3 linked regions of the Homo sapiens genome follow. The protein of the gene in region 1 interacts with the protein of each later gene in a pairwise test. Each region holds a gene or a part of one and is shown in the gene's direction. Other genes may lie near its edges. The genes, in order: CLDN1, MS4A3 and TMEM9.

Region 1 (12,189 bases):
CCAAAAATCAAGGTATTAAAAATTAAGATATTTTGTGTGTGTGTGACAGGTCTCACTCTGTCACCCAGGCAGGAGTGCAGTGTCATGATCACAGCTCACTATAGCCTCCATCTCTCGAGCCCAAGTGATTCTCCTACCTCAGCCTCCCGAGTTGCTGGGACTATAGGTGCATGCCACCCATGTCTAGCTATTTTTTTTTTTTTGTAGAGATGGAATCTTACTATTTTGTTCAGGCTAGTCTCGAGCTCCTGCAATCAAGTAATTCTCTCACCTTGGCCTCCCAAGCTGTTAGGATTATAGGGATGAGCCACCACACCTGTCCAAAAAATTATGATCTTCATCGCATTGCTACTTATTTCTGCTTTGATATGTTCTCTAAACACACACAAAAAAAACAAGATCTACTTGTGAGTCAAAATTGTTTTATTCACTAAAGTGTTCCTAGTGCCTTGGATTATAATAAAGATTAGAGAGTCTTCCTCTATCAGTCCATCCATCTGTTCACTAATTCCGTTAGTTACCCCTCACTTACTGAGTACTTCCTATTCACTCTGATATGACTCTGATTTGGTGGCCTGATGAGGATGCAGTCTTTGGGTATCACTGTACTAGGTAGTTGTAACTTTGGAGAGATACAAAGGAGGTAACTGATAAATATTTGCTTCAGGTGTAGGATAGCGTACCACATAAGCTTTCTGGATCAAGAGCCAGAACAACTGAGTTTGGAGGCCAACTCTGCTTTTTGCTAGCTGTGTAACTTGGGATAAACTACTTTACTTTTTCACACCTCACTTTTCTCATCTGTGTTGATAGTTATCTAATTCAGTGGCTTTTTTGAGCACTAAGTAAGTTTATACAACAAAGCCCTTAGAATCTAAATGATCAGTAAGTGTTAGTGAGTGTGATGGTTGATTTTATGTGTCCACTTGGCTAGGCTATGGTGTCCACATGTTAGGTTAATACCAGCCCAGATGTGGCTGTATTCTTTAGTTGTGATTAACATTTAAATCAGTAGACTGTGAATAAAGTGCATTACCCTCCGTAATTTGATGGGCTTAATTCAATCAAGGAAATACGGAGGTTTCCCAGAAGAGCAGGAATTCTGAAACCTAAAAAATTTCAGACTCTAGACTGTGAAGTCAACTCTTATTCAAGTCTTCCGCCTGCTGGAACACTTTACGAATGTTGAATTTGGCAGCTCCCACAACTGAATGAGCCAATTTCTTATAATAAATCTCTGTCTCTCCCTTCCTCTCTCTCTCTCTCCTCTCTCTCCACAGACACACAAATACACACATGTAGTCTATTCTTTGGAGAACTCCCACTAATAAAGCTAGTGTCATATTAAAGAGATTACAAGTAAAATATTAGCAATTTGACCTTGATTCTTGTTCAAATCAGTTGAATGTTTCTAGTATCTCTAAGATAAAAAGGATCTTCCCCAAATGACACAAGTGAAAGGATAAAAGGAACAGTCATTCAGCACCTTGTTTCAAGGTAACCTTTTATGACTGAAACAGAAGGTTTTATGGCTAAAATTTCATCCCCTCCCAAATTCTCTGAAGAGATGGACCTGCTAGGCTAGGAGTTAAGGGGGCAATCTATGGGGGAAGTTTTATGTCCCTGAAAACAAGGGAGGCACTTGATAATAAAAATATCAAACTGAGGTTTTGTTTGTTTTTCTCTCATTACCCTCTACAGATTCTTGCAGATCTGTGGGAGTCATCTGATATCACATCGCCATTCTCCCTCTTGGCCAACCCCTCCTCAGAAGAAGCCCTCAGGCATTAGTCCTAACCAGGGAAACTATCCAGAGCTAGGAGGGAAAACATCGCAAGGCTTGGAGAGGGGACCTAGAAATCTCACTGAAAGCTCATACCCCTGCCATTGCTGCCTTCTCTTTTTCTGAACACAACATTGTGTCTTCTTTCTAGAGAAACTGCGTATCTTTTCACTACGATTTAACTATGACATTCAGTGGGACTGTAACAGAATCGAAGCATGAAAGAGTCCTCCTGAACAAACATGAGGATCATTTGCAAATGGCAGGATCAGAAATGGAACGTATCTGATCTGCTTGAAATAATAAGTACTGTTTCATGTATGCTTGCTCTATACCAGCTACTATTTTAAATAATGTGCATGTCTGAACTTGTTTAATGTTCATAACAGCACTAGGGTTTGAGCCATTCAAAAGAAGAAAAAATGTGAGTCACAAGGATGTTATGCAAATTTCTCAAGGTTACTTTAAGTGGCAGTAATGGGATTCAAAAGGTTTGTGCTTTTAACCACTACCCCTCACTACCCTCTCAAAGACTCCAAGGAGCTTCAAAGGGCCATTTTAAAAGGTTGTGTCAGTCACACAGCAATGCAGTTTTAGTAACCTGAATGTTTTAATACTAAAATTCATGTTAAATTTATACAATATTTGTACTCTGATCCTTTTCTCAAGCCCTAAATAATTACACAGCAGATTGCTTACTTAGTAATGTGTTCATTCGTTCTGCTTTTACCACTTAAGAAGCTCTGAAAAGTCAACATTAACATATATTAACACTAAGCAAAAAAATTAACATCCCAATGGCTTTCATACTGTCATCATTAACCATTTCTGAGAATCTGCCATGCTGCCTCTTAGAGGCTTGGTTCTTTGTCTACACTCTCTTCTGACACTCACAGTCTTACCTTTGCTTCTGTCTTTTATGTGTATATCTCTTCTACTTATTATTGGTTCTCAAGATCATGGCTAAGCCCAAGCATCAGTCGCACAAGCACATGGAATAAACCAGTACGCTATTTGCTGTTTTTACACATCTCTTCCTCCTCAACAGCAACAACTTTTTGCCACATGATTCTAAATCCCCAGGGTATAAAACCTCAGTGGGCTGCAACAGATATTAAGAAGAGACAGTCACAGAGTAAAATATCTTGCCACTGCCTGGAGCAAGAAACACATGATAAGTATGTCTAAGCTCTTCCAAAGAAGAAAAAAAAAATTGTCCTCGATTGATTTGGGTCACACAGAGAAATACTGCAGGAGAGCAGTCAAAGGCATGGACACGAGCGTCAAATTATATAGTTTGGAATTCCAGCGCTGCCATATTCAATATGAACTTGGATAAGCAGCCTGACCTCTCTGTGTCTGTTACCTGCACGTAGAGATAGCATATAAAACTCTGACCTCAACACTTGATGAAAATATACAGCAACAAGTGCCAGCTGTCATTACTTAGAGTCATAAAGCTTTAGACTTGGGTGACTTTCAGAAATTAACCCCATCCCTTTTATTGGTAGGGAAACTGAGGAAGAAAAGAAGTAATTTGTCTGAGGGTACATAGCAGATTTTACTACTCAACAGGCTAGGACACTTACCATACCATTGCCAGCCTTTCTAGAGCCTTCTTGGTCTCAGTGCTGCCTTTACTGTTTATGTTTCAGATATGAAAGGCCAGTATTTGGAAGCTGTTTTTCCTCTTAAGTTGATAGATTTATGCTGAGCCATTATCTCACCTGTCCTCTGCACTTAAGCTAGGAGCAGAAAACTAGACAGGATTAAGGATGCCTAGAGATGGGCCTGAATCACAGTGAAGCAAACAGCATTCACCTCAGCCTCACAAACATGGTTGTGGGTAGTGAAGTAATCAGCCTCGCACAGACCTGAAATACAAAACAAAAACACGGGACCCTGCTGACCACAGAACTCATCCCTCCGATTCCCCGCTAATTGTAGGTTGATAGAAACCAGTTGTAATGCAGAGTAAAAGGGCCTGTGCACAAATATATTTACTGAACGCAGAAAATGTCATTTATTTGTTTATTTATTTATTTATTTATTTGTTGAGATGGGGTCTTGGTCTGTTGCCCAGGCTGGAGTGCAGTGGCACGATCTGGGCTCACTGCCACCTCCGCCTCCCGGGTTCAAGCAATTCTCCTACCTCAGCCTCCCAAGTAGCTGGAATTACAGGCGCCCACCACCATGCCCGGCTAATTTTCATATTGTTAGTAGAGACGGGGTTTCACCATGTTGGCCAGGCTGATCTCGAACTCCTGATCTCAAGTGATCCGCCTGCCTCAGCCTCCCAAAGTGTTGGGATTACAGGCGTGAGCCACTGCGCCTGGCCTGAGCCACCGTGCCCGGGTGTTTAATAATACTTTTAATTCTTAAATGTTTGGAACAAAAAAAAGAAGAAAATGAGATTATATGATTCACATGGTACTGCTCTAGTCCTGCAGCAAATTCCAGTGCCTTCTCTGATCAGGGAATTTTTACAAAATCAAATGTGATTGATACATCTTCATCCACACTGACAGGCACCCACAGAACATCCACTGAGACCTAGACAGTAGTACTGACTGCAGGCCCTAACCCTGGGATACAACACGAACATGGTCTTGTCCTAAACAGCTGATAGGAGAAAGACAGTATTCACTGTGTTAATCTCAGTCCAAATTAATTGTCTTCATCTAGCTCCTGTCTTACATTCTTCATTGCTTGTCCCTAAATCCTAGCACGGCCAAGTCCTTTAGTTTTAAGCCTACATGAAAGGCATCCAGGGAGAGCCAGGTGGAAATGAAGGTGGTGGGGCTTGGCCTTTCTTCCCATTCCCACCTTGAGAATTTGCACCTTTCCTTCTCTGTCACCAACTAGCAGTTGCCATGGTATATAAGGGTATATCTTATTTTATCCTTAATATGTTTATTTCTGCTTCCAAGATGCTTCTGTTTTTACTAAAACCATAGAAGCTTCCCCTCCCACCACACTCGCACCACACACAAAAAGCAGTTGGAAAAACATTTCAATGATTCCTAACCACAACAGCACTTCTGACTAACTACAAAGAAGGAAGCTTTGGAGAAACATAGAGGGAAACTACAGTCCCAGCGAGACCGAAACCGGAGGGGTGAGATAGCCAGTCACAGTAAAAGCTGGAACCAGAGCCCAGACTTCCTCAACTCCAGCCCAGTCCTTTTGCCACTGGGGAAACGCTGTTTACATGTCCTCACCTGCGACGAACAACATTTGATAACTCACAAAATTAACACCTTTCAGGGAGAGCGGGGCACTGGCCAGGTCCCTCTGATAATGAATTGCTGCTCTAAGACATAACTGCTGTGGGGAGGAGGTTGGTGTTTGGCGGGGAAGGGCTGCTAGCCTGCAGTTTCATAAGGACAATAATACATCAAAAAGGACAATCATAGATCAAAGGGGATATTTTGGGTCAACTTGATATGTAGTGGAAAGCAGATTGGGAGGGGAGCCAAGTACTGGATATGCTCCGTGCGTGAGTGTGTCTGTGTGTGTGTGTGTGTGTGTGTGTAAATCATGTTGCTCTCTGGGTCTGTTTCCCAATCTGTAGAGTGTAAAAGTCTCTGAGGCTCCTTGCAGAGACAAGTGATGGAACGACCTTGACAGAAGAGAGCAGAGAGAGGAAAGAAGGGGGAGGAAGCCAAGCAAAGGAGAGAGAAATGGTGTGATGGGGGAGGAGACGCGGAGTTGGGTAGAAATGCCTTTTAATAAGATATTGGGAAAAAAGTATTAAACCTAAAACTGCAGCTCTTGAAGGATCATTTTTTCATCTTTGTGTTAGGATTTACAAGTACAGTGCATAGTAATTTTTGGATAATTGGAGTGAATGAATGAAAAGCGTGAAACGCCTTACAGGAGCGAGAAGATCCACGAGAGAAAGCGAGCAGGGACGCAGCTCTGGTGCCTGGTCCTGCCGGGTGGTCCCCACGCCGCCAGCCGCGCGTTCCCCAACCGGGCGCTCCCGGCGCCCTCTCGGTGAGCCGCCCTGAAACCGCCAGGGGGCGCTCCCCGGCTGCCGGGGCTGAGGCGGGCGGAGCTGCTTTAAATCGCGGCGCCCAGCGGTTCTGCGTCTCAGTTCCCGAGCCTGGGAGCAACCGCAGCTTCTAGTATCCAGACTCCAGCGCCGCCCCGGGCGCGGACCCCAACCCCGACCCAGAGCTTCTCCAGCGGCGGCGCAGCGAGCAGGGCTCCCCGCCTTAACTTCCTCCGCGGGGCCCAGCCACCTTCGGGAGTCCGGGTTGCCCACCTGCAAACTCTCCGCCTTCTGCACCTGCCACCCCTGAGCCAGCGCGGGCGCCCGAGCGAGTCATGGCCAACGCGGGGCTGCAGCTGTTGGGCTTCATTCTCGCCTTCCTGGGATGGATCGGCGCCATCGTCAGCACTGCCCTGCCCCAGTGGAGGATTTACTCCTATGCCGGCGACAACATCGTGACCGCCCAGGCCATGTACGAGGGGCTGTGGATGTCCTGCGTGTCGCAGAGCACCGGGCAGATCCAGTGCAAAGTCTTTGACTCCTTGCTGAATCTGAGCAGTGAGTGCACCCCCACCTCACAGCGGCCGTCCAGAGGCCCCAGTCCCCCTGCAGCTCCCTTATGGGCTCATTCTGTTGTGTGATTCCATGGTTATCAGTCTTCAGTTGATCAAGTCTTCTGATCATGTGCTCTGTCATAAGGAAATGAAGAGAATCCTGGTTTGAGGAAAGCGACGCCCAGGCATAAGCTCTAGTTTTGCCTCTAACTCCCTGGGTGACACTTCTGCCACTCTAGGTGTGGCTTCATCCTAAATTCCTATGCTGGTGGTTCGAGTTGAGGGAGTGAAGGCCAAACTTGAACTTGAGCTCTTAGACCTCTCCTAGGCATTCCGAGATTTGGGGTAAATTGAGGATTGGTAGAGTTCAGACAAGAAAATGGGATGACTGAAAAAGTTTGAAGCCTGGTAACTTCTCAAGTGTGCACGCTTAAATAAATAATCCTCAAGTATTAGATATAACTTTTTAACCTTTAATATGATTTTTTCATAGTAAAAGTTACATTCCTACTGGAAATGTCCTATCTAAGTGTCTTCTGCTTATGCTTGAGGTTGATTCTTTTAATTTATAAGATCCAGTTAGTGCAGGGAGGCCCCTTGCAAGACTCTTTGGAGAAGCTGCTTGAGATTCCCCCGAAGTTTTAATTTTCAGACCCAAGGTCTTCTGTAGAGGCTGACGGTGTAGTGCTATCTTGGAAAGAGAAGGTTGGTGGCAGGTGGGGAAAGGCTGACAAGAAAGGTTCTAAATAACCTGCGCAACATAATACAAAGAAAAAAGTAAAGGCACTGAAGGGAAATGCAGCAAAATAGTCATAGCTGATGAAATCAGAGGTCAGCTGGGAGTGGAAGGCAGTGAGAGAGAAAGAAGAGGTGGGTCTTCCTTAGGTTTCCATCTTCCACAAAGAAATTTCTGTGTAATGGATGTTCAGTGACCCCCTGTAAAACTGGAAAGGATTGTATAGAGAGACATATTTCTAAGGATGGTGGGAAGAAGGATAATAGGATAATTGTTTTACTTTGTTTTTTAAATTAAAGGTTTCGAGTTCCTTGTCCGAAAAGTCATTAAATTCCCATTTACTTAGATAATAATGATTCACGGCTGGAGTATCTTCCTTGAGAAATCACATTAATTGTCTTATATCATGTGTCTGTTATGCCCTTTAACTCACTTGAAGAAAAGATCCCTTAGTCTTTGCCTAGATGAACGTGACTGCCCACTGGCCCCCATTGCATGCTAAGGGTGAAAAGTGTTGGCATTGTTCAAGTTTACTTAACTTGTTTTGTCTACCTCCTATCAAGGGACAACTTTTAATAGTGTATATCAAAAGCCATATAGTTTAGAGTTATTAAACCTGTTCCAAATCTGTTTGAACACCTTGAATACCTGTGGCATTTGCTCAGTCAATGTGCATGGTTGTTTTGAGTGTTATTATTTCAGCTTTTGAAGGTTCTCATATCAGGACTTCTTTACACCAAAACCAATCCATAAGTTTAGTAATTATGTGTTGCTCATTGCCCTCAGGGGTTATATTTGTACTTATAAAATGAAAAATTTGGTAATAATTATTGAATTTCTCCATGGAAAGATAAATATATTTAAGGAAACGGTGTCAGGCATTTTAGGTACCACGTTAAGGAATTGGCAGGTGGAGGTTTCTAAGGACAATTCCAGAGAGGTCTCACTGTCAGTTTTATTCCTCTGATCAAAATAGTTCCTTTTCAACATCTTTAAATAGGTTTTCTTTTAACTTCCTGAAATGACCAAATGAAATCAGATTGATCTATGTTGTAAATACTCAAATGGATCATCCTTACACATGATAATGTGTTAAAATGTTTTACTTTCATTTTTTGGTTAATGTAGTTATTACAGTTTTTAAAACTAGGGTGAAAGGACTAAATACCTACCCCCCCACACACACTTTAGAGATGTCTTCCTATTTTTTTAAAACTCCAGATCAGAATCCACTTTTATTTTACTTAAAGCCATAGTTTATCCAAGGTGTGGCTTAGGCCTTTCTCTCAAAACCCATTCTCAGAAGAGGGACCCTTGACTCACAGGTGTTCTCCTCTCACCTGCCGTGACTCACGGGATGCTTTTGGATAGAACCCAGGAAACCTTACTTCATTTCTCTGCCTGAGCAGTGGTGTTTACGCCCACCAGCTGTAGAGATCTGGGATGGTGATTCATTGGCTGGTTTTGGTACAGTTTTGTTACATGTAGAGATGAAAAGGGTTATGTGTGTATATTTAAGCAGTATCACTCAGAAAAAAGCTGCATTTCATTAAGTGTGTTTAGGTGAAAAGCTTAGCTGTGGGTTTCCCGAAATTGTACCTTGCCGTCTTTCCCAGTAGAGCACACTTGTCTTCCCGGCCAGATGCAGGGCTTTAGCACGGGAAGTATTAAAATCTGTTGTTTCCCTGCTTTATGTAGGGTAGGTCATAAAAAGCATATGACCTTCATAAAGTATCTGAAGGAATACAGTGTGCTAATAGTGTATACAGTAAATACAAAATGAGATAGAGCAAGGCTTCTTCTTTTAGGTAGTTCTTGCCAAGCGGTTTATGAAAATGTAACTGAGGCACTTCCTGGGGAAACAAATGTCACATTGTGTATTGTAGTTTTATAATGGCTGATACAATTTCCATTTCATCCAAAGTATGTGATTTTATTGACCCTGGGGATTCTTGTAGCTGAAAGTTGGAATATACAAAAAGTGCCAGATACAGTTGTAGTAGACTTTTCTTGATTCACCTGTACCTCTCGCCTTGTTTTCATCTAATTCTCAAACTTTTAGGAAGCTCGCGCCAATTTTATGTGCTTGCTTAAATGCTTCTTCTTACTTGACTTTAATAGCTAGAGCTGTCCAAAGATTGAGTTGCTGTAGGAGGCTGCATGGTGGGAGGTGTGCAAGCAGAGAATAAATAAGCATTTTGAAGGAATGTTGTAGGGAAGATCCAAGCACCAGACAAATGGGAGGTTAGGCTAGACTCTCTCTCAATCTCACCGAACCCTGAGATTCTGTAATTTGTTTATAAGCTCCTCTAGCCTGTTTAACTTGCTTTGCATGAATCCACATGTGTGTAGGTGTGCTTAATGAGTATTGGTGGCTGTGAGCTTCCCCAGCACTCTCACCATGATGTCAGGCTCAATCAGAGAGACAAAATCACTGACGTGGACAGTCTTTGAAGCCTAAGTGGAGAGGAGGGCACCTATTTATGCTTCTCCAGATGCGTTGTGCCTGCTGAACCGAGGGTACTCGAAGGGCCATTGGTGTTCAGATATACTTCATAAATTAGTTCTGACTCTTAGAATAATGGAAGTTGAAGCAAAAATCCAGGCTTGAGATCAGAAATTCTCTGTTCTTACTGTGGTTTGGCACTAAGTAGCCAAGTGTATAATGGTGAGCCACTTGATCTCCCTGGTTTCAAGTAGTTACCCCACTTATAAAATAGGGCAGAGTGGGAGGAATGGGGAGATGAATCTATGATTCGTTTATCCATTCAACAGATGCAAGCTAGGCCCTATTCTTGCTGCTAAGGATGGTGCAGCTAAGATGAGTTCTAAGATTCCTTCCAGTGCCAGAATTCTTTGTTATTACTTCAGTGATTGAAGGGGAAGAGGCAAGTCACATAGCTTAGGTTTCCTTAATTGGAGTGATTAAGGAAATATAATGGAGGTAATATAGAAGCATCAACTTAATTCTGAGAAAATTTCTTGAAGAAACACACAAACAAGAAAGGTAGCAAAACTTCTGAGGACATCCTGAAAAGTGGTACATCCTGCCTCATCCAGGATCATTTTCACTCCTGATTTTGCTTATGTTCTGAGTTCACATCTGGTGACCATCACCTCATGCACCAATAAGAGGGAAATGCTAATGATTAGGACTTTTATGAAACTTTGAACTTCCGTAAAAGTAAAAGATTTAATATGGAGAAAAGCCAGGGGAGTACACTTCTGTGACTGTCTGTGTTGAGCTCATTTAATTGCAGGGGAGAAGGAAGCACAATATTTTTGTTCTAGTCACCCAATCATCAGTTCATTTATTCACTTAATACTTATTAAGCAACTACAGATGCAAAGGGAGAATTGGAATCTGCAGTCAACATTTGAACAACACAGGTTTGAACAGCAAGTGTCCACTTATAGGTGGATTTCTTTCAACCAATACCGATCAAGAATACAGTATCTGAGAGTCCAAAGCCTGCATGTAGGGAGGGTTGACTTTCTGTATACAAGGCTTCCACAGGATCAACTGTAGGACTTGAGCATGTGCAGATTTAGTTACCTGTGGGTGGTCCTGGAACCAATCACCCTTATATACCAAGAGATGACTATATTTTGTTTATGATATATAGAACCTAAGGTAATATGGCTAGAAAATAGCATAAACAATGTCTGGTATTGATAGTAGATTCTACTACTTGTGTAGCAAGACTTTCAAGCTTTAGAAAAATTACATATATGTCTGTCTTTCTACACATTTGTTGATTAACCTAAGTGTAGTAGATCAGTAACTTCCAACTCACTTCTTGTCTTATAAGTAGAGATCTTTGTAAGTATTTACTTTTAATTCTACTTTCAGGTGGAAAATGATGAGAACTCCTTAGGGGGTCTTTAATCTCAAGATTGTCAGTCTAGCTAAATATAATTAAAAGACTGCCTTCTGTGTTTACTGCTGAATAATGATGAGAAAAAATAGTGTAATTTTTTTAATGTTTGCTAACCAGGTTCTCCATAGACAACTTTAGTCAGTGGTCATAATATTGTAGATTTAGCTGCAAATTTAAGAGGTGAGAAAAGGAATATGTTTGTTCCTAGGTTTGTTCTAATCAGACCAATTCAAAGTTAATATTGCAAGGCTATACAACATCTATCTCATCCAAATTGTTGTTTTATAGCTTTCAAACATCCTTTTTAACTTCTCTGCTCTGCCACTCATCATTCCATTAGGGCAAAAAGAAACAAAACTTAAGCTTTGAAGCTCATTAGATACATACTTTAAAAAATAGATCAAAATAAGCAAAAAGTACAATTTGTATTATCTGCATGAGTTTCTAGTTATCAGTGACCTAAGCTAAGTCTGGCTTTTAGTAGCAAGATTTTAGCATACCAGGCTCTCAAGGGAGGTATTTCTCAGTATTATTTCAAAAATTAAGCTAAACACAAGAGAATAAGTATTTTTACCTATCATATTGGTACAGATTTTTAAAGGATAAAGACATGTTCTAATTTAAATTTATTGAAATTTGATAAATCCATGTGACTTTTCAAGTACTGTGCTTGGTGCTTTAGATGGAAATAGGAATAAATATCTGACTCAAATCATCCAGGAGTTCATGATTACATACTTTACAAATCTGATTTAAAACACTTCTATGATGTGAAGGTATTCATCTGTTTCCGGCTTAAAACTGTGCAATTTAGATTTGATCTGCACATAAAACACTTGTAACTTGTAACACAATAGTTGCTTACTTTGACTGGTAACCTATCATTACCTACGCCTTGCTTGTGAGTTTTCGTGCTGTTTTAATTCTCAGCTTTTTGTGCGTGACTACATGTGTATATTATTTTTGCATTTTCCTCACATATAACTATACTTAAGAATTTATCCAAATATCTCCAATGAAGCAAAGCAAGATTTTGGGTTTGATGCAAATCTAATATTGGAACATACAAATAAATTGTATAAGTCAATAGTTGCCAGGATGTAAGTGAAAATATTACTTTGCAAAACGACATTTTAAAAAACAAAGCAGGATCTCATTTCTATGGTTTATGCAATTTTTAAATATTGTGTTTTCCATTTTCTCCATTACTTTTTGTGTATTATGCAAATAATATATTA
Region 2 (12,159 bases), on another chromosome or scaffold:
CATACTAAGAGCTGGAGAGATGAACTTAACTGGCAGTTTCCTAGAAAATCTACATTTCTCTGATTTTGTGTGTGTGTGTGTGTGTGTGAGAGAGAGACAGAGTCTCGCTCTGTCACCCAGGCTGGAGTGCAATGGCACGATTTCGGCTCACTGCAAACTCCGCCTCATGGGTTCAAACAATTCTCCTGCCTCAGCCTCCTGAGTAGCTGGGATTACAGGCGCGTGCTGTCACAACCAGCTAATTTTATGTGTTTTTAGTAGAAACAGGGTTTCACCATGTTAGCAAGGATGATCTCAATCTCCTGACCTTGAGATCCTCCCGCCTCTGCCTCCCAAAGTGCTGGGATTACAGGCATGAGCCACTGCACCCGGACCATTTCTCTGATTTTTTTAAAAATAAATAACTGATTTAACCAAATTTTAGAAAACATAGTTTGTTTCACCTGGAGGCTGAAAATTCTCCCTGATTATTTTGATTATTTGAAACAAATCAAGTTAAATAATATGGTTAGATATTTGCTCTCTTCAGAAATGCTCTTGGAGTTTCTTGAGATGAGAGGCTCCAGTGCTTGCAGAGGTATTTTCCATCATCATTTATCAGGATGGCTACCTTGGGCTGGACCAAAAGTCTGGTTACTGATTGAACATGTGTGTTAACTGAGTGCTTGCCATCTGATGATTCTGAGCTAGGCACTGGAGTTGCAGTGATGAGTAGACAACGAGGTAACAGACAAGTATCCAGGCAATTAAAGCTCAGGCTGATTAAGTGGTATGAGAAGGAAAGTTGAGGAAATTTTGAGAGCAACCCAAAGGGGTGCATGCTTCTTCCAGAGTTGGCCAGGACTAAAAACAGCATCCTGGAAGTATGACATGTGGGCTGAAAATCAGTCTGGAAGGGCCGGGCGCATTGATTCACGCCTGTAATCCCAGCACTTTGGGAGGCTGAGGTGGGTGGATCACCTAGGTCAAGAGTTCGAGACCAGCCTGGCCAACATGGTAAAACCCCATCTCTACTAAAAGTACAAAAATTAGCTGGGTGTGGTGGTGCACGCCTGTAATCCCAGCTACTTGGGAGGCTGAGGCAGGATCATAGCTTGAGCCCAGGAGGCGGAGGTTGCAGTGAGCTGAGATCGGGCCTCTGCACTCCAGCCTGGGAGACAGAGCAAAGCTCCAACTCAAAAAAAAAAAAAAAAAAAAAAAAAAAAAAAAAAAATTCAGTCTGGAAGGAGAGCAGAAATTATCCAGGTGAAGCTTGAGGGGACTTGTCTTTCAGGAATGGGGGATAGCACAGAGGATTGAAGACATTTGAGGGTTTAGAACTTCTGAAGGAAGACAAATCAAGAAAATAAGGCTGGATGGAGTTTTGAGATAGGGATGGGTGAGGGGTGAGGCAGGAGACGTAGGCGAGAGATTATCTGGTCATAAAGCAGCAACATTCTCCGTATTGCATGCATCTTAGTTCATTAGATATTTAATCCAAAATACACACAAATTTCCCAGTGGATAAATTTGAAGTCTTGGCTTTTTGGCTATTCTTATTTATACTTTTTGCAGATAATTACGTTAGGAACTTATTCACATAGAGTTTGCTTTAAGCTTTATTGATCTTCCCTCGCTCTTGGGTTCTGTACAGTGTTGAACACGGGGGGTTAAGGGTTCCTTGTCATTTCACATTTATCCATACTTAAATACATACAGAATGTAATTTAATCTTGGCATGAAAATCAATATTGGTAGGAAACTTTGATGAAGAGTATTGGTAGCAAAATTTTATGACATTTATAATAAATGTTTTATCAGTATTGGTAGAGAATTTTATGAATTTTTATAGCAATTCCCAGTGTAATAATAAAACATGGCTTGACTCTCACTTTTAGTCAATGCTTAGTAAATTTGTCATCACACTTAAATGAGTCATACACACCCCCAGAGTAGAGTATCAGAAAGGTAAACATCCTGAAAGTGGCGTGTATTTAGCTTGACAAAAAATTAAGTTATTAGAAAAATGGATCTAGTATATAATTTGTAACAAAGAGTAGAAATTAAGATACTATACTTTCTTTTTCAATAAAAAGCTTTTATTTTAGGTTTACGGGTACATGTACAGGTTCGTTATATAGGTAAATTCGTGCCACAGGGGTGTGTTGTGCAGATTGTCACCCAGGTACTAAGCCTAGTACTCAATAGTTATTTTTCCCGATCTCCTCCCTCCTCTCTCTGATAATCTCCAGTTGTTTTGTTCCCCTCTATGTGTCCATTTGTTCTTAGCATTTAGCTCCCACTTATAAGTGAGAATATGTGGTATTTGGTTTTCTGTTCCTGTATTAGCTTTCTAAGGATAATGGCTTCTACTTCATCCATGTTCCTGCAAAAGACATGATCTCATTCCTTTTTATGGCTGCATAGTATTCCACAGTGTGTATGTACCACATTTTCTTCATCCAGTCTACAAATGATGGACATTTAGGTTGATTCTATGTCTTTGCTATTGTGAATAGTGCTGCAATGAACATTCACGTGCATGTGTTTTATGGTAGAATGATTTATATTAAGATCTTATTCTTAACCCAATCGATAGTTATGGCAGAATACAGCATCATTTTATGTGTTTGTTTATGGTTCATCTCATGCCATCTCCCTCATCAGTTATAAAAGCATATAAGCATTTTACAACTATTTTGTGTAGGAGGGTACTATGAATTAGGAAGTTATCTTGCCCAACATTCAGAAGTCCAATGTAAGCATTCTGTGTGTACTTTAGTGATACATATTTTTCAGCTGTAATGATTGAGGTGGTTGTTTTGTGACCCTTATATATATACAAACTTGAAGTCCTTTTTGTTAGAAGGCAGAGTATAAGTTAAAAGCTGATACCACCTGTTCACAGGTTGAGAATTCCGTACATTATCAAAGTCAACTCTCGCAATGTTAATATAAAATTAAAATTATTCCCATTTTTACAGAAGTGAAAACTGAGGTTCCCACTACAAGGTCATGCAACTAGTAAGTGATGAAATCTGGATTTGAATTGGAATCTTCCATAGTGCTTAAACTCTGAAAACTGAGGTTCCCATTACTAGGTCATGCAACTAGTAAATGATGAAATCTGGATTTGAATTTGGATCTTCCATAGTGCTTAAACTCTACCATGCTATGTTGGTACTCAGAAAGACGTCTTCTATATAGTACTATATAATGTGGTGATTTGAAAAATATTGGACCTTAGAGTAGAATGTTTTTAGTAAAATCTGAAATGATTTATAAGCCATATGAGTTTGGGTAAGTTTCTCGGTCTCTCTATACCTCAATTTTTTTCATCTGTGAAACGGGAATAATAATAATATTATAACAGGATTAAGTATATTAATACATTCACAGCATCCAGACAGTGCTTGGCATATAGTAATAAGTACTAAATAAATGACACCTACTATTATTACTGGAATGTGACTAAAGCCATTATTCTTATAAAGAGACCACTGCTCAGAGAAACCATATGTCTGGTTGCCCTTGACTGACTTGAAGAAAGGCAGGGACTATATATCAGTGCATGCAAAATGAGAAAGAAATTGCTCTTTACCATTCCAAAGTTAAGTGAAGCACCAAGGCCTACTACAATGACCCGATGATGTCTACTACTCCAAGGCAAGACAGAATTGAATATTGTACAAACTCTGTTACTCTGCCCTGGTGTCCCATTTGTGGAGAGTCATTGTAATGTATGGACAGAATTGAACCCTTCTGTAACACTCAAAATTTTAGTAGCTAGTGGAAAAAGGGAAAGCATGAAGGCTTTGGATTTCTTTTCTATCACAGCCATAAACAACCCCAATGGCCTCCCACGAAGTTGATAATGCAGAGCTGGGGTCAGCCTCTGCCCATGGTACCCCAGGCAGTGAGGCGGGACCAGAAGAGCTGAATACTTCTGTCTACCAGCCCATAGATGGATCACCAGATTATCAGAAAGCAAAATTACAAGTTCTTGGGGTAAGTCAGCCTTAGTTTAAACACTGATTTAAGAGGGAAGAAAATAAATACAGTTGACCTGTGAATAACGTGCGTTTGAACTGTGAGGATTCCCTTACATGTGGATTTCTTCCACCTCTGTTTGCCATCCCGAGACAGCAAGAACAACCCCTGCTCTCCCTCTTCTTCCTCAGTCTATTCAACGTGAAGAGGATGAGGATGAAGACCTTTATGATAATCTACTTCCACTTAATGAATAGTAAATACATTTTCTCTTTCTTATGATTTCCTTAACGTTTTTAGTTTCTCTAGCTTATTGTATATAATATGTCACATACAAAATATGTGATAATCGACTGTTTATATTAATAGTAAGACTTCTGGTCAACAGTAGGCTATTAGTAGTTAAGTTTTTGGGAAGTCATAAGTTTTACGTGGATTTACCACCATGAAAGGGTGGGCATTCCAAACCCCAATGTTGTTCAAGAGCCAACTGTATCATGTAGAAAACCTTGCTTATGCTGAGAAGGAGGAAATTCTGAGTTATTTATCACTGACTTAATAATGATTGGAGAAAAGACAGGGACTTCTTATAGATCTGGGGAGCAGAAATGCAAAGGCATTTTCTCATGGTAGAAAACATCAAACCTTGGAGAACAGATTCCAAGACCCTTCATTTTTTGTTTTGTGCCTTTTGACCAGCCATTTGAGGAGGCTGAGCTCTATGAAGCTTATATTCTATATTTTAAATTTAAAAATTGGGTTGAGAGAAGGGTTAAAAATTGGGTTGAGAGAAAGGCTGAGTAGGATATGGCTTATCCTCTGTCTGCCTTCATCATATTATGATGCAAAAGCATGCTGGGAAGAGACTTTGACTCCATCTACCTTACCAATCATGTCTGTTTTACTGTCCTGCCACTTTCTGAGAGGAGTTCGTGAGAATGAACAGAAATGTGGGGGAGAGGTGAAGACAAAATGCTGCCACTGGAATTGGTGTGGATAGCGTGGAATAAAAAACTCTTTCAGATAAGCTCTCGTTCTGTTAATTTAGGCTTGACACTTTAACCATTTCAAGCACCGACATCTCCTTTCTGAGGAAAATTAAAATGGCCTGTTTTCAGTGTCCACTTTAGTATATGACTGTTACGCCTTTTTCCCCTTTCTTCTTTCAGGCCATCCAGATCCTGAATGCAGCAATGATTCTGGCTTTGGGTGTCTTTCTGGGTTCCTTGCAATACCCATACCACTTCCAAAAGCACTTCTTTTTCTTCACCTTCTACACAGGCTACCCGATTTGGGGTGCTGTGTTTGTGAGTATTCGTACTCCCCTGGCTATATGTTATTTCTTAGATACCACTGCTGGAGATGTGTTTGATGACAAAAATATTGTTTGTAGGTTATTGGAAGGTTGCATGCTGTGGTTTTGATTTGCAATTCTTGATATAAACAATTAGAGACGATAAACTCTTTTTTATTTTTTAATTTAATTAATTACTTAATTAATTTATTTTTTGAGACAAAGTCTCGATCTGCCATCCAGGCTGGAGTGCAGTGGCATGATCTCTGCCCACTGAAACCCTCTGCCTCCCCAGTTCAAGTGATTCTCTTGCCTCAGTCTCCTGAGTGGCTGGGATTACAGGCATGCACCACCATGCCCACCTAATTTTTGTTTTTGTATTTTTAGTAGAGACAGGGATTCACCATGTTTTCCAGGATGGTCTCGAACTCCTGACCACAAGTGGTCCTCCCAGCTTGGCCTCCCAAAATGCTGGAATTGCCAGGCATGAGCCCTGATGCCAGGCCAAAAATCTCTTTCTGATTAAGAGAAACCACATTTGCCAAGTACAAATGAAGTCCTAAAAATTATCTTATATATAACTATATGTTACATTTATAGATACTTAAAAAATTGAATGAAAAATGGGTATTGATGAATTGCCTTGTGGTACAGCAGAGAGTCCTGGCTTGAGAGTTAAGAAATTTGTCTGCTGATTACTGTCTGAAAGTCAGAAGAATCATTTCCATTATCTGGGTCAACATTCAATCAGAAGAAATAGGGGTGATTTTAAAATGTATTCATTCAGTTTTGATTATTTATTACTTCCCTGATGGTTCATTTTTAAAAAGTGAATGATATGTTTGTTGGCCATTTGTATATCTTCTTTTGAGAATTGTCTATTCATGTCCTTAGCCCATTTTTTGATGGGATTGTTTGTTTATTTCTTGGTGATTTGTTTGGGTTCATTGCAGATTCTGGATATTAGTCCTTTGTTAGATGTATAGATTGTGAAGATTTTCTCCCACTCTATGGGTTGTCTGTTTACTCTGCTGACTGTTCCTTTTGCCGTGCAAAAGCTCCTTAGTTTAATTAGGTCCCAGCTATTTATCTTTGATTTTATTGCATTTGTTTTTGGCTTCTTCGTCATTAAATCCTTGCATAAGCCATTATCCTAAGTGAAGTAACTCAGGAGTGGAAAATCAAACATCATATGTTCTCACTTATAAGCGGGAGCTAAGCTATGAGGATGCAAAGGCATAAGAATGACACAATGGACTTTGGGGACTCAGGGGGAAAGGTGGGAAGGAGGTGAGGGATAAAAGGCTACAAATTGTGTGCAGTGTATACTGTTTGGGTGATGGGTGCACCAAAATCTCACAAATTACCACTAAAGAACTTATCCATGTAACCAAACACCACCTGTTCCCCAATAACGTATGGAAATAAAAAAAATTTAAAAAATAAAATGAATAAAACTAATTGCATGGAAAGACTAAATAAATAAATAAATAAATAAATAAATAAATAAAGTGAGCAGCATCAAGTACAATTCTGTGTCCTAGGATGTGAATTTAAAAGGGAGGTTTGTATGACTATTGCTGGATATCTGCTAATTGAGGGAGGACCAAGAAGAAAATGGTTGAGACTTAATATTCCTTTATCTGTTTTCCTTCCTATTTTCAAACAGTTCTGTAGTTCAGGAACCTTGTCTGTTGTAGCAGGGATAAAACCCACAAGAACATGGGTAAGTAGCACTTCCTCTTTTTCTATGATCAGAGGAGTAGAAATATATTATTCATAAACAGTAGGACAGTAAGTGTCCATGAATACAACTGAGACACTGAGTATCATTTAATGCACAAAATATTAGTTTTCTTAACGTGTTCAGATGGTAGGTCAGCAGATCACATACATTGTGAGGATGCATTCCTGGGATGCTTGCTCTTAATATTGGTGAACTTGAAGCTTAGAAAAAGTCTTCTTGATTTTTATGTGTTGTCAAGTTTGACCAATTCTAATTATTTGGAAGTAAGAACTCCCACCACTAACTAGTTTGACAACTGAAAGTCCAAACTTCTATTCTAAACAACTGCTAAGTCTCTATGATGTGTTCTTAGTGAGTCACGTAGCCACTGATACTCCACTTTCCTACTCCATTCATTCACTTTCCCTCCTCCATGGATAGCTATTTTACCATTTTATTGTATCCTCAAACACCAATCCCACTTCTGTCATCCTTACTCTCTGCTGATGATTTTTCTGTCTCTTCTGAGAAAACTGAAGCCATTAGAAGGGAATTTTCAGACCTCCACTACTAATGGACTAGATCTGTACCAATGTATTTTTTTCTTCTAGCCTCTTACCATAGGAAAATTTTGTGATTTTCTTTAAAGCTGATCTCCCTACTTGAGTATAAGATTCCATTCTTTTTTTCCCCACACAAGTGCATCACTTTAATTTTTGTCTCTCTGCTATATATATATTTTTCGAGTCTCACTCTGTCACCCAGATGGGAGTGCAGTGGTGTGGTCACAGCTCACTACAGCCTCCACCTTCCAGGGCTCATGCAATCCTCCCACCTCAGCCTCTCACATAGCTGGGACTACAGGTGTGTGCCACCATCCCTGGCTAATTTTTGTCTTTTTTTTTTTTTTTTTTGTAGAGACAGGATCTTGCCATGTTGCCCAGGCTGGTCTCAAAATCTTGGGCTCAAGCAGTCCTCCTGCCTCAGCCTCCCAAAAGGCTGGGGTTACAGGCGTGAGTTACCTTGCCCCATCTCTAATCAGCATGTAAACATCCAGTTACTGTTCTCAACTTAAAAACAAAACAAAACAAAACAAAACAAGAAAACCTTGACATTATTTCTCCCTGCTAGGGACAGGCACAATTTGTATTTTCCTTCTGTAGCTAAACTCCTTCAAAGGAATCATCATGTTCTTTCTCTGATTTCCATCTACCGGTTTGAATCAAACCCACTTCAATAAGACTTTATTTTATTCCCTACTATCCTTCTGTAACTGCTGTCTTTAAGATCACTGAAAACTTCCACCCTGCTAAAACAACGGTCAACTCTTGTTCCTCATCTAACTTAAGCTATGAGTAGCATTTAGCATAGTTAGTCGCCCACTCCTCCTTCCAGGAATTTCCTCACTTGGCTTCCAGCATACATTGCTTGGCTGGTTTTCCTCCCATCTTTTGCTTTCTCCATCTCAGTCTCCTTTCCTGGTTCCTCTCCTTGTCTCTGACCTTTTAATGTTCTGGTGCCCCAGAGCTGAATTCTTTGCCACCTGCTCTTCTCAATCTATACGTACTTCTTCTGTGATCTCACACATTCTTATGACTTCAAGTAATATCTGTATGCCCACAACCCTGAAATAAGTATTTCCAGCCCAGGTGTCTCTCCTGATCATCAGACTGGCATGTAAAGATCCAAAGCTCAACTCCCAGTCTTCTTCCTCAAACCTTCTCCTCATGTCAGCTGATGGGAATGTCATCCTTCCAGATTCCCAGACCAAACACCTTAGAATAACCAAGAGTCTTCTTTCTTTCACAATCCTGAATCCTATTTATCAGCAAATAATGTTGGCTCTACTTTCAAGCTATTATTATATCCAGTTTTGACCTTTTCTTATCTTTCTATTGATGACATTTCATCCAATCCACCTTGTCTCTCCTAATTGGGCTTCTAGCTTTTATCGTTGAACTTCTCTTTGCCTTGCTAGAAACAGTGATCCCTTGAAACCATAAAGCCAAGTATATCATTTATTTGCTCCAAATCCTTCATTGGCTTTGTATTTTTCTTAGAGTTAGAAACAAGTTCCTTTTCATGATCTGCAGAGCCCCACATGATTTGGCTCTCTGTTAACTTTCCTTCTTCTTCATTTCCTAGTATTGACTACGTGCCTCCAACGCCCTTGACCCCTTTGCTGCCCCAGAAGATTCTGGCCTCAGGATTTTGAGTGTTTCCCTAATTTCAAGGATATTCCCCCAGATATCCTCCTGGCTGGCACCCACAGCTCTTTCATGCCTCTCCCCAGTGTCATTTCTATTTAATATCATGAACCCCCACTCCTCTCTTTGGATTCCCAGATTCTCCTTATCCCATTCTGTTAGCCCCTAGTACTTAATCACTTTCAAAAATATTATGTAATTTACCTATAGTATGTTTACTTTTTTCTTTGTTTTTATTGCTAGAATATAAGCTCCATGGAGGGTGGGGGACAGAAATCTTTCTTTGGTCATTGATGTTAGCCTCGCATCTAGGATATCAGTGGGTGTGTAAACAATATTCAATCAATGTTTGTTTCAATGAATTGTTGCCAAAGGAATGAAGTACGTGCTGCATATATTAATTGAAAATTCTTATTCTTTTTTAGATACAGAACAGTTTTGGAATGAACATTGCCAGTGCTACAATTGCACTAGTGGGGACTGCTTTTCTCTCACTAAATATAGCAGTTAATATCCAGTCATTAAGGAGTTGTCACTCTTCATCAGAGTCACCGGACCTATGCAATTACATGGGCTCCATATCAAATGTATGTTTCTGAAAAATATGTATAAGTATAAAATATTTCAAACAATCCAGGATGTACAGAAAAATAATATATCAGGTACCAATGTGCCATAATTTGAATCTTTTTTTTTTTTTTTTTTGAGACGGAGTCTCGCTCTGTCGCCCAGGCTGGAGTACAGTGGAGTGATCTCGGCTCACTGCAAGCTCCGCCCTCCTGGGTTCACAGCATTCTCCTGCCTCAGCCTCCCGAGTAGCTGGGACTACAGGCGGCCACCACCATGCCCAGCTAATTTTTTGTATTTTTTTAGTAGAGACGGGGTTTTACCGTGTTAACCAGGATGGTCTTGATCTCCTGACCTCGTGACCCGCCCGCCTCGGCCTCCCAAAGTGCTGGGATAAGGGGCGTGAGCCACCGCGCCCATCCCATAATTTGAATCTTGGGTCTGTCGCCTATTTGCTTTATAATGAAGGGCAAATTAGATAATCCCTTGAATTTTCTCATTTTTGAAATGAGGATAACAATAGTACCCGTCTCATAGGATTTATGTGAGTATTTAAAAAGTTAACATATGATAAGCAATTAAAACAAGGCTTAGCATATCATGATACACAATTATTATTACCACAACTACTACTATTACACTCCCCAGAGAGATTTTTTTTTAAGTTTCATTTCACCGGGCGCGGTGGCTCACGCCTGTAATCCCAGAACTTTGGGAGGCCGAGGCAGGCGGATCACGAGGTCGAGAGATCGAGACCACCCTGGCCAACATGGTGAAACCCCGTCTCTACTAAAAATACAAAAAAAAAAATTAGCCGGGCATGGTGGCAGGCGCCTGTAATCCCAGCTACTTGGGAGGCTGAGGCAGGAGAATCACTTGAACCCGGGAGGCGGAGGTTGCGGTGAGCCGAGATTGCGCCATTGCACTCCAGCCTGGGCAAAAAGAGTGAAACTGTCTCAAAAAATAAAAAAATAAAAAAATAAAGTTTCATTTCATATCTCCTTGCTTAATAAAACAAACTTGAGAGATTTACAACTTTCTCTGCAATCTGGAATGTTCAAATAATGACTTGAAGTTTTGAAGGACTGCGCTTTAGAATGAAATTAGCATGGTGTTTTCAAAGGAAAGCTCTTTAATAACCTTACCTTTTTTTTTTTTTTTTTTTGAGACGGAGTCTTGCTCTGTCACCCAGGCTGGAGTGCAGTGGCGCCATCTCGGCTCACTGCAAGCTCCGCCTCCTGGGTTCACGCCATTCTCCTGCCTCAGCCTCCCGAGTAGCTGGGACTACAGGCGCCCGCCACCACGCCCGGCTAATTGTTTTTTTTTTTTTTTTGTATTTTTAGTAGAGACGGGGTTTCACTGTGTTAGCCAGGATGGTCTCGATCTCCTGACCTCGTGATCCGCCCGCCTCTGCCTCCCAAAGTGCTGGGATTACAGGCATGAGCCACCGCGCCCAGCCAACCTTACCAATTTTTTAAAAATTTGTGTTCAGGTACTCTACCTCTTCTGAACTCTACTTAGAAATTAATATTTTCCTTTGGAATTATCCATTTCATCCCAGTGATCTATGAACTGTTAATTACAGACTCACTCCTAAGCTTCCTGTTTTCTTTTTATTATTATTATTATACTTGAAGTTCTAGGGTACACGTGCACAACGTTCAGGTTTGTTACATATGTATACATGTGTCGTGTTTGTTTGCTGCATCTATTAACATGTCATTTACATTAGGTATTTCTGTTAATGCTATCCCTCCCCCAGCCCCCCACCCCACGACAGGCCCTGGTGTGTGATGTTCCCCGCCTTGCGTCCAAGTGTTCTCATTGTTCAGTTCCCACCTATGGGTGAGACACTACTTATGGAAGTTTGTGTTCTCATTTTCTTTATTACATTTTTAATGATCTAAATTTATATTTGTCGGAGCCTGATTTTTCTGTGAATTTGGAGGTATTTTTCCTCCAGGGATATATTGTATTGGTTGCTTCTAGGTGCCTCAGTAATAATAGTAGAATCATTAGCCCAACAATTTTATTTTTTGTTTATATTAGCTCAGTGTTTTAGTTTCTAGGGATAATGTAAATGCCTAAACCCCTATGAAGTGCTAATGAAATTGTGGAAGGGCCATTTTTGTTCATTTTTCTAAACTGCCTACTCCTCTCCTTAGTTTACTACTATTCAGATTGGAAGATGTTAGTGATAATGTCAGAATTTTGTTTCTACAGCTTCTTCCCCCTGTAGCTACTTCACATGCGTTGACATAGAAATGTGACACATCTTTCTCATTAGAGAAAATGTTTTCATGCTTTTAGATTGAGATACTATCTCTTCTACAGTGTTATATGTGTCTCTGTCTTTAATTTATGGTTCACTTTGTTCCACTTTACGGGAGGGAGAT
Region 3 (8,362 bases), on another chromosome or scaffold:
TCGGGAAGCGCCTCAGCTAGGCCTCAGAGAATTAGTTGAAGAAACTGAGAGTCATTTAGCTTAAAGGAAAAGAAAAACAACTAAAGGAGACGCATGATAGCTGCCTTCAGAAGTTTGTAGAAGACAGCTTGGCTTCATCCAGGGACAGAGAGATTTAACACAATATGAGGAGGAGGCTGGGAGTCTTCCTGTAGACAGCGTGGTCTAACTATGGGGTAGGTGGGCTGGGCTCCCTTGCAAGACCATGAGCCAGTTCCTCACCAAAAAGAGGACCCAGGGGCTCAAGTCTAAGTGTGAAGCTGCCTGGGTGATGTGGGTCTGGGCCAGCATGAACAGCGAAGAGAAGGGCAGATCAGGGAGGGAGCCTGGCTGCTCTCGAGGGCTGTGTTGCCCCACCCTGCGCACATGCCTGGACTGCTCCCAGTTTGCCCCCAGCCTCCTGCTGACATGAGTTTGGCCGAAGGTGGAGCAGAGGGGATGAGCCTCGCCCCATTGGAGCTAGGGCCTGGGAGGTGGTGGCACTGGCAGTTGGGTGGTCTGTGTTCAAGAGGAAACCTCGTGTGCCTACCTGGTTATTAATGTAGAGTAATAGCAGCTCTGATAGGGGAGGAGCATCGCTAATAAACACTCAGCGATTAGGGGTAATGTGGTAATTGCAGTCCTGGCTGGGGTAGTAATTGAGAGATGCAGCCCAATGATTTCCGTGGAATGCATGGCTCTGGGGCATGGCCTTGTTATGTCTCCTGCCATCCTAGCCAGGGAGCCAGAGGGAGGGCAGCTTGGGGAGAGCAGCTTGCCGTCCCTGGGTATGAACCCAGGTCTCTCTTACCCCCAGGAGACCTGGAGTGCTCCTCATTTGAAGCCTGTTTGTATGAGGGGGCCTTGGGAGGAAGAAGGGCTAGATTTGGTAACTGTGGCAGGACTGCCTGGGAGGACAGTAGGCTGTGATAGGCTGCAGCACATAGAAGCTGGCGAGCCATGCTCCCTCCTGTAGGGGAAGTTGCGGCCCTGGGATGGACAGGATGACACGCCCTCACCTCTCACCTGAGGTTCTAAAAGCTCATAAAAAGTTGTGTTTAATCTCTTTGATACCCTGACCTAGGGTGCAGCCAACTCTCGCTGGTTGTGGCCTGGGGCAGGTAGATCTCATTGGGTGCCCTTGGCTGGGTAAGGAAGTGCCCCCAGTCCCGTTCTTTGGCATCATCTCTCTATCCCCTCACCTCCTGTGATTCTGTGTGGTCTCCAGGTCACAGATGTCTGTGGTTCAGCAACTCTGCTTTTCTCAGTGTATTCAGAAAACCTGCAGGTGGCACAGTGTTGAGATTTGCACAGACCTTATGTCTGCCCTCGGGGGTTTAAGCCCCAAGACGGCCAAAAGCAGGTAAAGCAGCAGGAAACGTAAAGGCTGGCAGTAAGATCTGGCTTCGTAAGACGGGTGGTCAGCTGAAAAGTCAGGTGCCTTGGGAGGCCCCTCTTTACTAGACAAGGGGTCGGAAAGTTACCCTTCTCGTTGTGTTAGTCTGGGAAGGAAGGCTTCCTGGCAGAGGGGGATTTTCAGTGCCCACTCAGGGTGGTTGGGAGAGTGACCGCTGAACTGCAGGGAGGATGAACAGGGCATTGGGGCTGGACAGAACCCAAGGAGCTTGTCTTTACAGAGACTGGGGGCCCTAGTCCTGGACGACGAGGGATAATCTACTGCCCCTCTCAGTGCACAGAGGAAAGGGATGTGGGGAAACATGGGGCTGGGGGGCAGGCATTCAGCTGAGCGGCAGCAGCACCTAGGCTGTAGCCATGTCTCTGGGTTTCACCCCAAGAGGAACAAAGTCAGGACATGGCCTCTTGGGTTCCTTGAAAGTTCGCCTAGGCCTGTACAACTCGATGACTTTAGAAGGAAAATTCTGTCTAGGCTCCAGGAGCTTTCAGGCCCTACGCCCCAGAAGTCTGGGACCCAGTTAGGGGTGAGATCTGGAGGTCAGGGCATTTTTTCAGGGTTAGGGACCCCTTGGTTCCTTCTCCCCAATTCCTGTGACCAGGAGCTCTCCTGCCCAGGGGGTAAAGAACTGGAAGAGGAAGAGGAGGCCTCCCCCTCAGCCTCAGCCCCGTTCATGGAGGGAGATGAAAGCTTGTCATGTTCCCTTTGAAAGCGCTGGCAGAGCCTCAGTAGGCCCTGATTGCTGGGCGCTGCCTCCCCTGGGATTCCAGCAGCATTAGGCATAATCCCTGGGCTCAGACGTCCTTTGAAAGGAGGAAGCAAGCATGTTTGCTGGGGCAGAAACGGCAAACAGAGCTGTTTTAGATGTGCAGGTTGGGCCCTCTTTGAAGAGAGACACATGGTTTCTCTGAGGCTGGGGATGTCGCTGCTCACAGCATGGGCCCAAGCTCTGGAGAGGTCTTCAAAGTGCTCACCCTGCTGGGGCAGTGGGTAGAGTTCTGGGCCCCCTTTGGGAGAGAGTATACAGGGAAATCAAGGAAAGGTGATGATGATGATGGGAACTGGAACATGCAGGCACCGGGGAGAAGACTCGGGCCACTGAGGAGCAGTCTCCCCTCCTGTCTGCACATGGGTGGCAGCTGTGTTCTGAGGACCCCAGCCCTGGGAAGCTGACAGTGAAACACGGAACAGACACACTGATGAGGGCAATCCAGTCGGCCTCCTCCCCTGAGGGCAGAATAGAAAGATGTGCGGTTCAACAGACGCTTCTAGAGCCTCCAGTGGGGCAGCACAGCATTGTGGTTAATCACAGTCCTGGGAGGGGCCGAGCCCTGCCATTTACTATCCTTGGTGCTAACCTCCTGGTTTAGTTTTCTAAGTCTGGAATACACATAATCATGTTTACCTCAGCATAACTGTTGCGATCGTGTGTATGGAAGCTTTACAAGTGTTTGCTCGTCCTTAAGAATGCGCTATTTCAATCAGGTGTTAATACTTAAGTAGCATCATGATTGCTGGAGGGAAGCCTGAGGGGCAGCGTGCACAAGGGCCTGAGTGAGGATCACCGCAGGTAGACAGAGGATGCATGGACCAGTGTGGCCAGAGGCTGGGCTGGGGGGTAAGGGGGGAGGTGAGGCTGGGAGTGCCCTTGAATGTCAGGCCCAGCAGGGTTTTATTTGTGAGCAGGTGGGTCCCAGCTGGGGTTTTTGGGCAGGGAAACAGCATGAGTTGGTGTGTCATAGGAAGGTGGCCCTAGCCGCAGCGTGCAGGGGTCAGGGAGAGCCTCGCAGCAGAGGTGCAGTGGGACTCAGCAACAGCAGCAAGGACTTGGGTCAAACATGGAAAACTCAGAGAGGCTGTATAGTCCTCTTGCTGAAGGGCTTTGCACTAGGACCATGCTTTGCTGAGTGGCTGGTAAGTGATGAGACCACCTGGTCATGCTCCTGTGCCTGGGATTGGGGAGGAGGGAGGAGGAGCAGCCAGAGAGAGGAGAGCCGCCTGAGGTGGGGTTCTCACTCTCCCTGTCTCCTTGTCATCAGGCTTTGGCCAAGTCCAGTGCCAGCTCAGAACCAGTGCTTCTGGGCAGACTGAAGAGGGTTTCATCTGGGACGGCCTGAAGGGCTCAGGGCTAGTTTGATCAGCTGGGGCTTATCCACACAGTTACTTGGGTCCTTCCAGTGTGGAGAAGAGGGCCTCGCTTGATGTCCTGAGCATTGGTTCCTTTAGAAGTGCTCTGTTCTTGCTCTAGCTGTGGGGAAATATACCAGCCTGTCTCTTTGGTTGTCCATGCTGGCTCCCTCTTAGGAGAAACCAGCCAAAGAAGGATCCAGCTGGGTCCTAGGATAAGAGATATACGTACATGGGTTCAAATTCCGACTTGGCCACTAAACAGCCATGCAGCCTTGGGCAGCAAGATGATTCATCTTTCAGAGCCTCAGTTTCTGCAGCTACAATAGGGGATGGTTTTACCCATTTGCCAGTGTTGTAAGCCTGGGAATAATCTGTGTAAAGTGCCTAGCAGAGCGCCTGGCACATAGTGGCACTTGTCATAGTCACACTGGTCTGGTCCCCCTGGGGACCTCCTGGGAATCCATCCATGTCCAAGCTCTTTTTCTGATTGGGAGGGGCTCCACCCGCCTCCCCTCCTAACTGCCCTTCTGCTCCCGAGTTAACCGGAGGCCCAGCCTCAGAGGGAGAGGGGAGGAACTGGTGGCATTTCTCCCACTTCCACCCACCATACTTGCTGCAGAGCAAGCAAGGATGAGGCCCCACTCTGGGCTGTCTCTGAAACAGATGTGGAGTCTTTAATACCTTTTAATCAGACTATTAGCGATGGAAACTCAGCCTCTCAGTGGCAGCTTTCCCCCACTTAGGAGCTGTTTGTTAAGACTTTACATGAAGGGAAAACAAATGATACTGTGGTAATGTGGTGAATTTCAGCATGTTCCCTTAATGCTGTGCTCTGGGCTCTCCCTGGCTTCCCCTTCTCAAGACGCTCCCCTGAGATACAGAGCAGTGGAAGGAGGGCAGGGCTAAAGCTGCCCCACCCTTCCAAGCGTAGCACCCCACCCCACACACACACTGGAGCCCTGTCATGAGAAAGATGGTCCCAGAAAGGATGAGATTGGGAATGGAAAGAAGAAGAGAAGGCAATCCAGCCCCCAGAGCCAAGTCCCGGTGGGCCAATAGCTTCCCAGATGGGTCTTTAGTGCCCACCTCATGTAGACGGCCACACTGAGGCAGGACTGGGTGGAGGCTTGGTCTTAGCACTGTGGCCAGCTCAGTCAGCACAGTGAACAGGGAAGGCATGGAACTGGAAGGAGGGGCAGCAGCCATGGCAGTTTTCACAGGCTTTCTCCTGGCAGCCAGCCGCCAGCCTTACTGCCTAGTGGCTTCCAGAGCTAGGCTCTGATATTAGTCATCGCTCCTAGGGAAGAAAGAAACCAAACATTTCTTGAGCCCTAGCTCTGTGACAGCCAGGATAGTAAGTGCTTTATATGTGTGTTATTTAACTTTGCCATACCCATCTACTAATCTTAAACCAGTGTATTTCAAGCAAGCCATTAGGTCATGAAATGAATTCTGTGAGTCATGACCAGGATTTTTAAAAAAATGGAATGGAACAGAGCAAAGAATATCAGAATGCATTACACTAAGTATTGTTTTATGAAACTTCTTTTCACTCTGTGTGTGTGTGTGTGTGTGTGTGTGTGTGTGTGTGTGTGTGTGTTAGATAATTTGGTAACTATAATTCCTAATGACCGTATAGCAGAAAAAAGTCTCAATGACTACATTTACTACATTAAATTGAAGCTTGGAGAAATAAAGTAACTTGTTCAGGGACACATAGCCTCATAAGTGACTGAGGCCATGTCTCCTTCCCAGCCCCCGCTGTGGATCTGTAGTTCCACCTGGGACGCGAGCCTAGGGGAGGCTGAGGCTGGAAGGGGCAGGTGATCCCCAGCCCAGGAACAGAACCCAGGGGTCCTAATTCCAAGCTCAGTATGCCCCCTGCCTGACATGGCCACACGTGCCTTTCAGGCGTTGCCTGAGCCTCACCTAGCCTGGCACAGGAAGCCTTCCTCAGGACCTGGGCGGGAGGCTCCCAGAAGGCAGTGTCCATCTCTAACGCAGCTTAGAGAGGAGCACTCACAAGATGAAGTCCTCAGAGCTCTGAGAGGATGATGATGAACCCTCTCCCAGCCTCCTCACTGCCAGCTTGTTCTCTGTCCACCCTACCCTCACCTCACCACCCCCCTTCGCCCCAGCGTAGCAGCTGCATGGTGACAGAAGCCGTGCCAGCTTGGGGCATTAGAAGCAAAGTTGCATTTACTGGGCGGCTCTGGGCTTAGAGAAGTGCACTAATCCCTTAAGAGATGTGTGGCAGGAGATGAGAGGCAGGGAAAGCTAGGGAGGAAATCCCCACGGGGGTGTGGGCCTGGCCCTCAGCTCTAATTCTCTCCAAAGATCAGGTTCAGGTCCTGCAGGAAATGCAGAGGCTCCGGAGCTTCAGAGGCAGAGAAGTGGTAATTAGGGGAGGATGCTTTTGACGGCAGCAACAGTTCTGAAAGCAAAGGGGAAGGGGATCAGCAGAGTCAGATAGGGAGGAAGCTGAGCTGTCCTCAGCTATCAAAGGAGGGAATGGGCCAGAGAGGGCTCTGCAAAGGGAATGCTGGGGCGGCTCTGAATTTCCATCCCTGTCAGACTCCCTGAGTGATGTCACATCCCTCTTTCCCAGGGAAACTAAGATCCCATGGATCTGGATCTATGCAGACTCCTCAGTAGGCCCCCTCCCATCTGGAGCAGATGTGTTGCCATCTCAGGGTAGCCAGACCCTAGCCCCTGGGCCTTCTTCCTGTCCCCTGGGCAATGGCGTGGAGGGCAGGGGAGTTCTCTAGCCTAGTACTAGCCCTGGGGGCACCTCGGTGCATTGCTGAAACAACAGATGTCATCAAGTCCTCTGCCTAAGTGAGGTCTTGAAGCCTATACTTAGCATCCTTCTTGAGAGTTAGAAATAGTGGAATGGGGCATGGTGAGGGGTGGGTTCAGGCTGGGAACCTCCCTTGAGCTAGCTGTGTGGCAGTAACTGGAGCCCCAGCAGAACCTACTCTTCCTGGAGTGCTTCCTTTCCCAGGCCCCAGGGAGGGGCAGGGGCCCCATCCTGCAGATGCTACAGACACTAAGGCTTCCAGCAGACCTGGCACACTGTGTTCAGCTCTGCAGATGACAAGGCAAGGTCCTCAGCCTGCAGCACTTGGGGAGGCCCAGCCTCCCAGTCTGGGGAAGGTAAGGCTTTGGGGTTCGTTCTTTCCATGTCAGACTTTCAGGATCCAAGACCCTTCTGGCTTACCGTGCCAGATCTTCTCTTTTTTTCTTCCCACTACAGGATGCTCGCTCTATGGCAGCAGCTGCTGCATCCCTCGGGGGACCCCGAGCAAACACAGTCCTGGAGCGTGTGGAAGGTGCCCAGCAGCGGTGGAAGCTGCAGGTGCAGGAGCAGCGGAAGACAGTCTTCGATCGGCACAAGATGCTCAGCTAGATGGGCTGGTGTGGTTGGGTCAAGGCCCCAACACCATGGCTGCCAGCTTCCAGGCTGGACAAAGCAGGGGGCTACTTCTCCCTTCCCTCGGTTCCAGTCTTCCCTTTAAAAGCCTGTGGCATTTTTCCTCCTTCTCCCTAACTTTAGAAATGTTGTACTTGGCTATTTTGATTAGGGAAGAGGGATGTGGTCTCTGATCTCTGTTGTCTTCTTGGGTCTTTGGGGTTGAAGGGAGGGGGAAGGCAGGCCAGAAGGGAATGGAGACATTCGAGGCGGCCTCAGGAGTGGATGCGATCTGTCTCTCCTGGCTCCACTCTTGCCGCCTTCCAGCTCTGAGTCTTGGGAATGTTGTTACCCTTGGAAGATAAAGCTGGGTCTTCAGGAACTCAGTGTCTGGGAGGAAAGCATGGCCCAGCATTCAGCATGTGTTCCTTTCTGCAGTGGTTCTTATCACCACCTCCCTCCCAGCCCCAGCGCCTCAGCCCCAGCCCCAGCTCCAGCCCTGAGGACAGCTCTGATGGGAGAGCTGGGCCCCCTGAGCCCACTGGGTCTTCAGGGTGCACTGGAAGCTGGTGTTCGCTGTCCCCTGTGCACTTCTCGCACTGGGGCATGGAGTGCCCATGCATACTCTGCTGCCGGTCCCCTCACCTGCACTTGAGGGGTCTGGGCAGTCCCTCCTCTCCCCAGTGTCCACAGTCACTGAGCCAGACGGTCGGTTGGAACATGAGACTCGAGGCTGAGCGTGGATCTGAACACCACAGCCCCTGTACTTGGGTTGCCTCTTGTCCCTGAACTTCGTTGTACCAGTGCATGGAGAGAAAATTTTGTCCTCTTGTCTTAGAGTTGTGTGTAAATCAAGGAAGCCATCATTAAATTGTTTTATTTCTCTCACTTTCTGGTTTTTAAGAGATTTAGGGAACTAGGAATTTTTCACAAGTGACCTGGTAAATGTAGTATCCCAGAGGGGACAGAGAGCATTGCGTTTTGCTAGGTCCAGACAGGCAGAGCCTTGGGAAGTCCAGGCGGCCGTGGCAGAGCCAGCCACAGTGCAATCAGGCCAAGGCCACGGCTTGCTGGAAGTCCTCCTCACCTGATTAGGAAAGAGGTGGGTAGGCTGGGGCAAGGAGCACAGGGTGAACTGGCCCTTGGGAGTTATCCTGAGATTTTACTTCATGTTTATGGGCAGTTCCTCTGAAACTGAACAGTGCGTGATTCATCCTAATATCCTACAGACACAGTAAATAGCGCTCCCTGCAAAACCTGTAAGTATCCCCAAATGAAAACCAACAGGTATTTGGAGAGGGGTGGGTGGGGGCAGCTAGAAAACGAGCTGCCCCATACAGAAGGAAATGCCAGCAGCTTCAACAGGGACATCCAGGGGAGCCCGGCAC

Evidence for each region.
Region 2: the proteins of CLDN1 (region 1) and MS4A3 interact in binary tests that used the Homo sapiens proteins (3 or more experiments, as listed by UniProt).
Region 3: the proteins of CLDN1 (region 1) and TMEM9 interact in binary tests that used the Homo sapiens proteins (3 or more experiments, as listed by UniProt).

Annotation. Positions count from the first base shown.
Region 1 is NC_000003.12:190,316,133-190,328,321, reverse strand, and holds the start of CLDN1 (claudin-1), read left to right. Parts: upstream 1-5,875; 5' UTR 5,876-6,115; coding exon 6,116-6,338; intron 6,339-12,189.
Region 2 is NC_000011.10:60,057,330-60,069,488, forward strand, and holds part of MS4A3 (membrane-spanning 4-domains subfamily A member 3), read left to right. Parts: intron 1-3,816; 5' UTR 3,817-3,831; coding exon 3,832-3,987; intron 3,988-4,193; exon of another isoform or gene 4,194-4,225; intron 4,226-5,138; coding exon 5,139-5,276; intron 5,277-6,932; coding exon 6,933-6,989; intron 6,990-9,621; coding exon 9,622-9,783; intron 9,784-12,159. UniProt on the Homo sapiens protein: Hematopoietic modulator for the G1-S cell cycle transition. Modulates the level of phosphorylation of cyclin-dependent kinase 2 (CDK2) through its direct binding to cyclin-dependent kinase inhibitor 3 (CDKN3/KAP).
Region 3 is NC_000001.11:201,134,272-201,142,633, reverse strand, and holds the end of TMEM9 (proton-transporting V-type ATPase complex assembly regulator TMEM9 isoform a precursor), read left to right. Parts: intron 1-6,818; coding exon 6,819-6,971; 3' UTR 6,972-7,862; downstream 7,863-8,362. UniProt on the Homo sapiens protein: Transmembrane protein that binds to and facilitates the assembly of lysosomal proton-transporting V-type ATPase (v-ATPase), resulting in enhanced lysosomal acidification and trafficking.